Regions from separate parts of the Homo sapiens genome. Here region 2 is linked to region 1. Evidence: fine-mapped expression QTL. A gene starts in region 1. The other region holds a variant in brackets. All regions are shown on one strand. Distances are between the middles of the regions.

Region 1 (5,377 bases):
TGAATGTAATGTTGTACTTCTGGCTGGGTGAGGGGGCTCATGCCTATAATCTCAGCACTTTGGGAGGCCAAGGCAGGAGGATCCTTTGAGCCCAGGAGTTCAAGACCAGCCTGGGCAACATAGTGAGACCTTTTCTCTACTGAAAAAATAAAAATAGCCAGACATAGTGTCAAGCTCCTGTGGTCCCAGCTACTGGGGTGTAGGGGAGGGGTGAGATCGGAGGATCACTTGGCCCTGGGAGGTTGAGGCTGCTGTGCAGTGATCTCCAGCCTGGGTGACAGAGGGAGGTCCTGTCTCTCTCTCTATATATATAAAATTTCCTTTGTGGCTTTCACAGTATCCATACTTTAAAAGAATTTATAATTAAGAAGGAATTAATACCTACCTCTGAAACAGTACAGCCAACCAATTCCATTGTTATTTACAAGAACCTGATATTAAAGATGGTTGTAACGATAATAGGTATCAAGTATGGAGCAGTTTCTATGTGTCAGGCCCTATGTCAACCACTTAACAACCTTACCTCACAGAAGCATCATAGCAACCCTTATTAGAAGAGGCTTTATTATGTTTTACAGGTGGGGAAACTAAGACTAAAGAAGATAACTCATTCAAGGTCAATCAGCAAGTAAGTAGCAGAATTGGAACTCAAACCCAGGTCTAGTTTGATGATAAAGCTGTTCCTTTAAGCAATTTGCCATAACATGCACCTAATGGGAAATGTTGCTTGGATCACTGGTTATGGCCATCATTCACGGAGATACTGAACCCGGAGTTTTCTTTAACATAGCCTTTACCCTGTAGAAACATTTAAACTTCATTTCAGAAGAGAAATATCTATTTGAAAAATAATCTAAGTAAATTCATCAGATGCTTTACCCCAGAGAGACTCTGGTCTTGGTATTTTGGTTTTTGTTGTTGTTTGAGACGGAGTCTCGCTCTGTCGCCGAGGCTGGAGTGCAGTGGCGCGATCTCGGCTCACTGCAACCTCCGCCTCCTGGGTTCAAGCAATTCTCCTGCCTCAGCCTCCCGAATAGCTGGGATTGCAGGCGCCCACCACCAGGCACGGCTAATTTTTGTATTTTTAGTAGAGACGGGGTTTCACCATTTTGACCAGGCTGGTCTCCAACTCAGGTGATCCCCCCGCCTCGGCCTCCCAAAGTTGCTGGTATTACAGATGTGAACCACCGCGCCCGGCCGGTATTTTGTGAAGAACAAACTATAAGGTGACTACTATTTTGGGGTCACCTTGACATGGAGGAGAGGTGAATGGAAATAAAACTTATTCTTCCCAGTGTCTTTAGAATGTAGGCGCTGAAACTGAGTGAAACTGAGTAAAACTGCCACCCAATTTTCCTGGGAACCAGCGATTCTGTAGTCAACAGAAGTTTGCTTTTCCAACAGCTGGAAACGCCAGGGTTGGGCACAGCCTCAAGAACTGAGGCTGCCTTGTTCAGACTTTCACACGGTCCCTCTGTTCCTTCCACAGAGGCCTCTTTTTCTTCTATATCCCGCATCTGCCGCTTGGGACACTCATTCTGTAGCGCAGCACCAAGTCTTCCAAAAAGGCGGCGCTGGTTTTGCGCTCCTTTTTTAAAGGGATCTAGGCCAGCCTCTATCTGAACTCTGTACGATGTTTTTTGTTTGTTTGTTTTGTTTTGTTTTTGAGATGGAATTTCGCTCTTGTTGCCCAGGCTGGAGTGCAATGGTGCGATCTCCACTCACGGCAACCTCCGCCTCCCGGATTCAAGCGATTCTCCTGCCTCAGCCTCCTGAGTAGCTGGGATTAAAGGCATGCGCCACCACTCCCAGCTAATTTTGTATTTTTAGTAGAGACGGGGTTTCTCCATGTTGGTCAGGCTGGTCTCGAACTCCCGACCTCAGGTGATCCGCCCGCCTCGGCCTCCCAAAGTGCTGGGATTATAGCCGTCCGTCACAGCGCCCGGCCAACTCTAGACAATATTTATTGCTCTACTTTTTAGTGTCTGAAGAAGAAAGAAGAGGACAGGAAAGAAACTTCAGTCTGAGGGTTGAGGACACGTCCCGGAGCAGAGGAGGACCAAGCTCCCAAGCCCCCTGTCACCTTGACACGCAGACGGTTCCCCAGGACTGCGAAGAGGGGGGCAACCAGCGCCCCGCCCCGCCCCGCTGCGCCGCCCGCCATTGGCCGGTCCGAAAGACGCGGGGCGTTGTCGGTTTGAATGAGAGCGCCTGGAGCCGGGGCGCAGGCGCAGAGGAGGGCGGTGTTGAGACCGGCGGAGCGGCGGGACCCCTAGGTGGCGGAGGGACGCTCCGGGAAAGCGAGGGGCGCTACGAGCTCTGGCCCACGTGACCTGCCGGGGGCGGGAGCAGGGGGCGCGCCGGCCTCCTGCGGTGCCCCTGCCTTGGGGAGGGGCCGTGACCACCCGTCTGTCGCCCGAGGCGGCCGCCGCTGCACCTTCACCGCGTACCCGGGACCCGCCCGCCCGCGGGAGGTGAGCGCTTCCGCGACGCGGGTTCTGAGGCGTTTGAGGGGCTCTCGGAGGGAGGTGACAGGGAGGGGTGCGTGTGCGTGCGTGTGGGGCTTCTGTGTCCAGAGGTCTGGGGGTGACGTCCTTTGTTTTGGGCAGGAGGCGGGCTGGGGGCTTGCGGGACCTGTGGGCGCTGCGGGGACGCGGCGTCGATGCTCAAGAAACCAGAAACTCGGCTTGAGGAGTTGCTGCTTTTTTGTCGGAAGGTCTTCAAATGAGAGTAAAGCGTTAAGAGCCTCACTCCTGAGTCTTTTTTTTTTTTTAAGATAAAAACTATACTAGAGTCCAGCGACTTCTTACCACTCTGAATGTGAGTAACAAATTGTGAATCAAAGCCCGAATCCCCGTGGAATTCATTCCGAGGCTGATTGCAATCACTTGGAGTCGGGCGCGTCCTACCTAAACCAGGCAGTTTATGGCAAATACCTGCCTTGACCGTGCTTAAATTAGTGAACTTTTGGGCACCAACTGGTCGATTTACCATAGAAATTGGTAGTTGCTGCAAAAAGAGTAAGTAAACATAAAACGTTAAGAAAACTCTTTCCTGAAATCTATAGAATACCTTCGAATAAAAAAAAATCTGTAATTTCCTTGTTTTAATAGTAACCAGTTAGAGCATTTGAACTAGTAGCATTTGAACTCTGTTAAAGAAAACGAGTAAGGATGGAAATTTTATTGGCCTTAATGCATAATTTAACCACACCGTAGAATTAAACGAAGTAGGTTCTTGGCTTTCCTTTCTATCGGGTTTGCATTGGAGCGTTCGTGGGGTGTGTTGGAAGTCAGCAGGACCAACAGAGCTGAGTTTTCAAGCTGCCACTTTAGAAGGGTGTACCGAAGATTTCTGGCCTGATAATAGCCGGTGTGATTGCTTCTGATAAATACCACTTTTGATTGGGTTCTCACTATTCAGGAGCAGCTTTAGTTGATTGTTTAGAAGTGAATAAACAACATTAAAAAGGGTAGATCACTGTTGGTTGACATGGTGTGTGTAAGGAGAGGGGGGCCTCAGGGATTAGGGGTGGTCTCACACCTACTTCTCTTTACAACTACCACGGAGTCGTTTTCGCAAGCTATTTCCCAGGCTATTACTTATAATTTAAGTATTGGAGCGGTTTCAAAGTAAAAAGTTGTGTGATGTTGTTGTAGAGGCATGTCTCCAAAATCCTCTCTGGCCAGATAAGCAGTTTAATTGTATTTTCTTACATTCTTAAATCAGATATTCGGTGTTACAAACATATTTTAATATAGATCTGAGACTTGCTTACTAGACTAATTAAAACAGTGATAAGATATAGTAGTTTTAAAAATGACCTTTTCATAAACATAAAATATTTCTAAGATCTATCTTTAGAAATTTGTAATTAGTTCTCTGGAATTTTAAAATGGAAAATCTGACATAGATTTAGGTTATTCTAAATTTATTTGAATATATATTAAATATGTCTATTTTATAATAACAGTTACTGTTATTACTACAGCACTATGTTGAGTACTTTTGTTATGTATCAGAGCCAGGTGCTGGGTCAGGTGCTTTATAAATCATGTCTGTAATTATCACAGCACATTTTAGGTAAGTGTCATTATGCCCACACCAACTGAGAGTTTAGCGTAAGATCATATAACTAATAAGTCACTGTGCCGAGATTCAAATCATGGCCTGATCCCAAAGCACATGCTGTATTGCTTCTGTGTGTCTGTTTAAATCTCTGCTGTGTCTCTGGATTCCATTTGTAGGGACAAGTTCTACTTTAAAGATGCCTTTAGGTGCTGTGTTTTGTTGTAGCTTCGCAGAAATATTTCAATCTTTCTGTTGGAACTATCTTGCTTCATTATTTTATAAATCATCTTATAAATCACATTATATTTTCAATATCTTCTTAATCATCTTTATACAAAACATAAGTGAAGAGTAAGACTTTTCTGAGTTTCTTACATAAATATGAATAGAATCTTTACTGTGGAGAAGAAATGTATTACAGTCCGGTTTTCTCACTATTGTAGGATTCTTTGGCCTCGTCATAATTCCTGTCTTCTTCCCAGGGAAGAAATTAAAGTTTGTTGGGCCTCTCTTATGTGCAAAGCAATGTCGTTGGTGTTGTGAGATGACAAGAAAATGCTTCCTATTCAGTAGTTGTTTCTGGAGTTTTTGTAGTATTTTTCTTTTCTCCCCATTCCTGCCTTATATGTTGCTGCTGGTTTATCTTCCTAGCAGAGATCCAACTTGGCTATTCCTTTGTGGGGAAAAAATACCAGCAAGGTTCCCCATTGTGTAAATAAAAGGCTGAGGCCGGGTACGGTGGCTCACGCCTGTAATCCCAGCACTTTGGGAGGCCGAGGTGGGCGGATCACGAGGTCAGGAGTTCAACACCAGCCTGACCAACGTGGTGAAACCCCGTCTGTACTAAAAATACAATAGTTAGCCCAGTGTGGTGGCACACGCCTGTAATCCAAGCTACTCAGGAGGCTGAGGCAGGGAGGCGGAGGTTGCAGTGAGCCGAGATCGCGCCACTGCACTCCAGCCCGGGTGACAGATCAAGACTCCATCTCAAAAAAAAAGGGGGGGCTGAATATGAATATATGCTTCTGCCACATGTTCAGAGTCCCTCACAGTTTGTTACTGTTCTACCTTCTCAGCCTTCTCTTTCACTACTCTGAATACTGTGTGCTTATCCTGGAACACATTCTGTGCATTTCTACCCTCCCTTTTTCTTGAGCCATTCTTTTCCCTTGACTGGAATGCCTTTCCTTCATTTGGCTAATAAGATCTACCCATCCTTCAAGGTGCTGTACAAAATTCCTTGCTTCCAAAAAGTTTTCCCTGGTCCTTTTCAGTTAGAATTATTATTCCCATATTATCACAAAAC
Region 2 (5,377 bases), 42 kb before region 1:
AAGTAGCTGGGACTACAGGAACACACCACCCCACCCAGCTAATTTTGGTATGTCTTAGTAGAAACAGAGTTTCACCATGTTGGTCAGGCTGGTCTCGAACTCCTGACCTCAAGTGATCCACCCGCCTTGGCCTACCAAAGTGCTGGGATTACAGGCGCGAGCCACTGCACCCGGCCAGTATGCTTGTGTTCTTAACCACAGTTCTGCTCCTTGGGGAATTTGTCACAGCATTTGATATAATGAAGTTCTCAACAATGAACATTATTTGCCCTTAATATTTTCTCAGTTGTCTATCTACATTTTTTTTAATTGATGGTGGTTTCAGTTTTGTAAACAACTTAAAATATCAATATTGTCAAGGAGGAGGTGCGAGTGGCCAAGAAACATATGAAAATAGATTGAGTTTCAAAAATAGCAAGATTAAAATAATGAGATATCAGTTTTCACTTATGCATTTGGCAAAAGTTGGAAAAAGAAAAAAATGTCTGGGGTAGGCTCAAACTGGGGACACCAACATTCCCACGCACTGCCCTCAGCCTATAAACCCCCATGGACTTCCTAAAGGCCAGATTATCAGAATTTTCAGCATGTACCATTTGAACCATTAACTGCAATCCTAGGGTTTTATTCTAAGGAAATGATCAACTACAAATGTTTGCATGTCAAATGATGTTACCTGAAGCAGTGTTTATGATATCAAAGAACTGGAAAAAACTAAATCTCCATCAATAAGAGATTGTCTAAATGTGTCAGAGTACATTAGTATAATGAAATATAGTACAGTCATCAAAAATGAAGCGATAGTTTATTCTAAGTGATGTGGAGAGCTGCTCAAAATATAACATTAAATGAAAAGCATAAAACAATATATATAGTAAAATCCTATTTTGGCCAAAATGTATATATAGGAGAAAAAAAGACTGGAAGGATATACACTAAAATATTAGCAATGGGCCAGGCGCAGTGGCTCATGCCTGTAATCCCAGCACTTTGGGAGGCTGAGGTGGGTGGATCACCTGAGGTCGGGAGTTCTAGACCAGTGTGGGCAACGTGGTGAAACCTCCTCTCTACTAAAAATACAAAAATTAGCTGCACGTGGTGGCACATGCCTGTAATCCCAGCTACTCAGGAGGCTGAGGCAGGAGAATCACTTGAACCCAGGAGGCAGAGGTTGCAGTGAGCTGGGATCGCACCATTGCACTCCAGCCTGGACAACAAAGCGAGACTGTCTCAAAAAAAAAAAATTAGATTGATTTTCCTCTCAGTGGAAGTTTCTTCTTTATACTTTTCTTTATTTTCTCATTTCTCTTGTAATAAGCATGTATCAGTTTTATAATTTAAAAAAAAAGGGTTTTTTCATCCATTTTTCCCATGGTTTTTTTTTTTTAATTTTTATATTTTATCATTGCTGAGCTTACAGGGTTACTCCTCCACTGACATTTAAGGCAGATTTACATTAGCAGAATGCAGGGAGGTGCCCCTCCACCTGAGTTGGAGACCCGGGCATCACCTATCATTTACCCTGAACAAATATCACCTTTCTAAACTACTCTTCCTCTGCAAAAAGTCTTTGCAAACTGTAAAGCTCTGAGCCAACATAATTATTATATCATTGTTTACTGCTTATTATAATATTATAATATAATATCATTTAAGACCCCGGGGTTGGTAATCCCAGCATTTCCAATTCATTCGAAATGAAATAATCTCTAGACCCTCAGAATTTAAAATGTGGTCCGCAGACCAGAACCAGCAGCTTTGGCATCACCTGGGGCTTGTTAGCAATGCAGAATTGCAGGCTCGCCCCAAACTTACTGATTCAGAGCCTGCATTTTAACAAGATCTGCAGGTGATTCATAGGCTCGGAGAAGTTGGAGAAGCTCCGGTCTAGGTACGCCTGCCGAGATTCTCAGGAGTGCAGAAAGTGGGAAACCGTCAGCAGTACCAGCCATCACCAGCACTGACACCCAGGATGCCATTAGGAAGAGGTAAGTGATCTTGATTATGCCAATTTCACAGTCACATTCAGCAACACTGGTTTTAGTTAAAGAGCCAACAATGAGAAGAACCCAGCCAGGCCCCGGCTGCAGGACATTACCCCAGAGTTAGAAGACAGCCTCATGGCCACTTGGTCTGGCTTGTTCTGGGCAGCTGCATCTCCATAATGACCGTTTAGGTAACTAATTTAAAAAAAAAAAAAGCAGTTTGAATGTTAGAATCAGTTCTTGAGCTACCTGGGAGCTCCACTATTTGGAATCACTTGGCATCACCCCTGGGATGGTGGGAGCGAGCAACCTAAGGCAGAGAGTGCTATGGGCCTCATGCGGCCACTTGACCTTCACCTCTCCCCGCGTCCCCCAGCCCCAGCTGTCCCGTCCCTCAGATCTCTGCCCAGAGGGTTGCAGAGGCTGGCCAGGCCCTGCTGGTGGGGCAGGTGAGGAGCCAGGCTACCAGGCTTTGTAACT[C/T]GTGGTCCAAGACTGCTTTTCCTGTGGGAGCCTCATGGGCCTTCCTGGAGGCTGCATGAGGAAGGGGCCTCTTTCTGTGTCCTGTGTCTGCTGGGGCTCCAGGGCTAGGACTCACGTCTGCGGGGCCAGCTCACAGAGCTCCTCGTTGGGGGCCTCCTGCGGCCCTCCTTGGGGTGTCCCTGTTACCTCACTCCCACCTGAGCCTCGAGGCCCAGAAGGGTGGCCGGGGTGCTCCTTGGGAATCTGGGGGAGCCACACAGAAAGACTTGAATTAGAGCCACAGTCCCACTGGAGGTGACTCAAAATCAGTTCAGCATCCCTACAGCACCCCTAAGGCACCATAACATCCTGCCTGGCGTCCCCCCACCCCTGTCTCCCCCAGCTCTTTACCTAGCTGTCTTCTCATCCTCCAAGACTCAGTCCAAATCTCACCTTCTCTGAAAAACCTTCTCCCTTAGTAATTCAAACCTTCTGCATTTAGTTACTTTTGGTCATATCCCATTACTTAATAGTCATGATAGCTAACACCCAGGAGTAATGTACTCACTGTGAGCCAGGCCCTATTTTCAGTACGTTACTTATATTAACTCATTTAAACATCATAACAGCCCTGTGAGGCAAATATTATTATCTGCATTTTACAGAAGAGAGAACTGAGGCACAGAGAGGTTGCATAACTTTCCTAAGATCACAAAACTAATAAGTGACAGAGCCAGTATGTGAACCCAGGTAGTCTGGCTTCAGAGTCACGCAGAATGTATTATTATTTTCTGCACTGTGCTTTTTAACATTTCATAATTATATGTTAATTTAATTTTTTTTTTTTTTTGAGATGGAGTCTTGCCCTGTCACCCAGACTGGAGTGCAATGGCGCAATCTCGGCTCACTGCAACCTCTGCCTCCCGGGTTCAAGCGATTCTCCTGCCTCAGCCTCCCAAGTAGCTGGGATTACAGGCGCCCGCCACCACGCCCGGCTAATTTTTTGTATCTTTAGTAGAAACGGGGTTTCACCATGTTGGCCAGGCTGGTCTCGAACTCCTGACCTCGTGATCCGCCTGCCTCAGCCTCCCAAAGTGCTGGAATTACAGGCGTGAGCCACCGCACCTGGCTTAATTTGTTAAGTATATGTCTCTCTTACAGAAATGTAAGCATCTTGAGGGCAGGTGATTTGTTTGTTGTTCATGTTTTATCCCCAATACCTAGAAAAGTGCTAGCCTATAGCAATACATACTGCTGAGTGAATGAAGGATGCCAGCACTAGACTCTTTCCAGAACCACTTACCACAAAGTTATTTAGAGAGTTCTCATCATTTCACAACAGTAGCTGTAAACTTGGGACCAAGTAAAGAAGAGCAGATCCAGACCCCAGGGAGCTGCCAGGTAGAGGGCAGGGCCAACCCTGAGGTGGCCTCACAAAGACTTGTGACTCCTGCAGGTCCAAGACTAGCAGGGCAGCCGCTGTGAGCCTGGAAACTGCTTGGGTGCCTTGAGATGGGCTGTTACATCCACGGTGGCTCAGGGCTTCCTCTATGAAGCATCGACTCTCCTGGGCTTTCAGCTGGACATTCAGGATTCAAAGATGAGTGCAGAGTCACAGAGACAAACGAGACCCAGTGCTGCGGGGACACAGAGGCCGGGGCCAAGAATTCCTCCAGGTGCGGGGGATTGGGGGGCTTGGGGGTGAGGAGGGTGGCTGACTAGGGATGCATAAATGACCTGACGCTAGAGCTGGGCCTTGAATGAGTGAGATTTTGCCAGGCAAGTAAGTGCTTTGAGGAGGCAAACACTTCTTCGGAAGGGCTAACCTTGACATAATCTTTGTCACTTTGTCCTTCGCTTTGACAAAATCCTCATTCAAGTTTGAATATCAGCCCCAGGCTGTGTCTTCAAATACTGTATGAAACTAAAGAGTCAATTTAAGGTATTTATTTAAATGATTCTGTTTCTCAGAATTTTGATTTTAGTCTGAATGTTCTGATAGTTGAGGCTACAAAGGCAAAAAGTATAGAAAGACAGTGGTGGTTAATTTGAATTCCCAATCTTGCATAAGTAGAAATCCAAAAGAATTTAACTTGAGAGAAGGAAAATGCAGAAGTGGATTCATGGGAAATAATTATTTCACTGAGTGTGCTATTCTTTATTTTCAGGTGGCTCATGCCTGTAATCCCAACACTTTGGAAGGCCAAGCGGGCGGATCACTTGAGGTCAGGAGTTTGAGACCAGCCTGGCCAACATGGTGAAACCCCATCTCTACCAAAAATATAAAAAATTAGCCAGGCAGTGGTGGCATGCACCTGTAATCTCAGCTGCTTGGGAGGCTGAGGGAGGAGAATCACTTGAGCCCGGGAGACAAAGGTTGCAGTGAGCTGAGATCGTGCTACCACACTCCAGCCTGGTGAGTACAAAACTATGAAGAAAAAAAATTATTTCTTCCAGGCATGATCTACAAAAATTTTCTTATTAATTTGGAAGAAATAGCTCTTCGGTGGTTTAATGGATTTAAACAGCATTGTTACATCCTAAACTATAAAGATGTTTCAAAAATTAACACTTGAAATAGCTTCTAATCTTTAAAAGCTGGTTCCATTTAAAATAATATAATTCATGGGACTTTGGAAAGTTAAATTTTCATGAGATATTAAAAATGGAATTCAGTGAATCCATGAATTAGGAGTCTATAAATGCAAAAACACCATTTTTCCTGGCACAAAATTAGACTGTACATTGCTGTATTACCTCATTTGAGAGTGAAGAGAAGGTGGAGGCCAAGTCATCCAGGGTAACTGGAGAACTCACAGGAAGGGAAGGAGCTGAAGTATATTTGCTTTCATCCATTTTCTCTTTAACATCTTCAAGCAGCATCTCCAATTTGAAGATTTCACCTTCCACTTTTCTAAGTAAACATAAACACA

Which allele goes with the higher level. Alleles are on the strand shown, and positions count from the first base shown. SD is a standard deviation of normalised expression in the study named.
With allele C in place of T in region 2, the expression in subcutaneous fat of the gene that starts at base 2,231 in region 1 is higher (moderate effect, 0.44 SD a copy in GTEx).

What was found. PIP is the estimated chance that this variant, and not a neighbour inherited with it, causes the effect.
Region 2: its variant is fine-mapped to the expression of GPSM2 in subcutaneous fat (GTEx, PIP 0.91).

Annotation. Positions count from the first base shown.
Region 1 is chr1:108,874,755-108,880,131 of GRCh38, forward strand. It overlaps GPSM2 (G protein signaling modulator 2), which reads left to right and starts at 2,231. Exons shown (of 15, transcript NM_013296.5): 1 at 2,231-2,474. RefSeq lists an enhancer at 1,887-1,986 and silencers at 2,067-2,466, 2,557-2,626.
Region 2 is chr1:108,832,349-108,837,725 of GRCh38, forward strand. It overlaps AKNAD1 (AKNA domain containing 1), which reads right to left. Exons shown (of 16, transcript NM_152763.5): 7 at 5,202-5,358; 8 at 2,581-2,708; 9 at 2,099-2,180. It overlaps LOC105378891 (a long non-coding RNA gene), which reads left to right. Exons shown (of 5, transcript XR_947687.3): 3 at 1,842-1,988; 4 at 3,901-4,120; 5 at 4,613-4,655. Among named protein-coding and RNA genes, the nearest start is that of AKNAD1, 22 kb to the right of the region's middle. The variant C/T (reference allele first, on the strand shown) is at 2,466.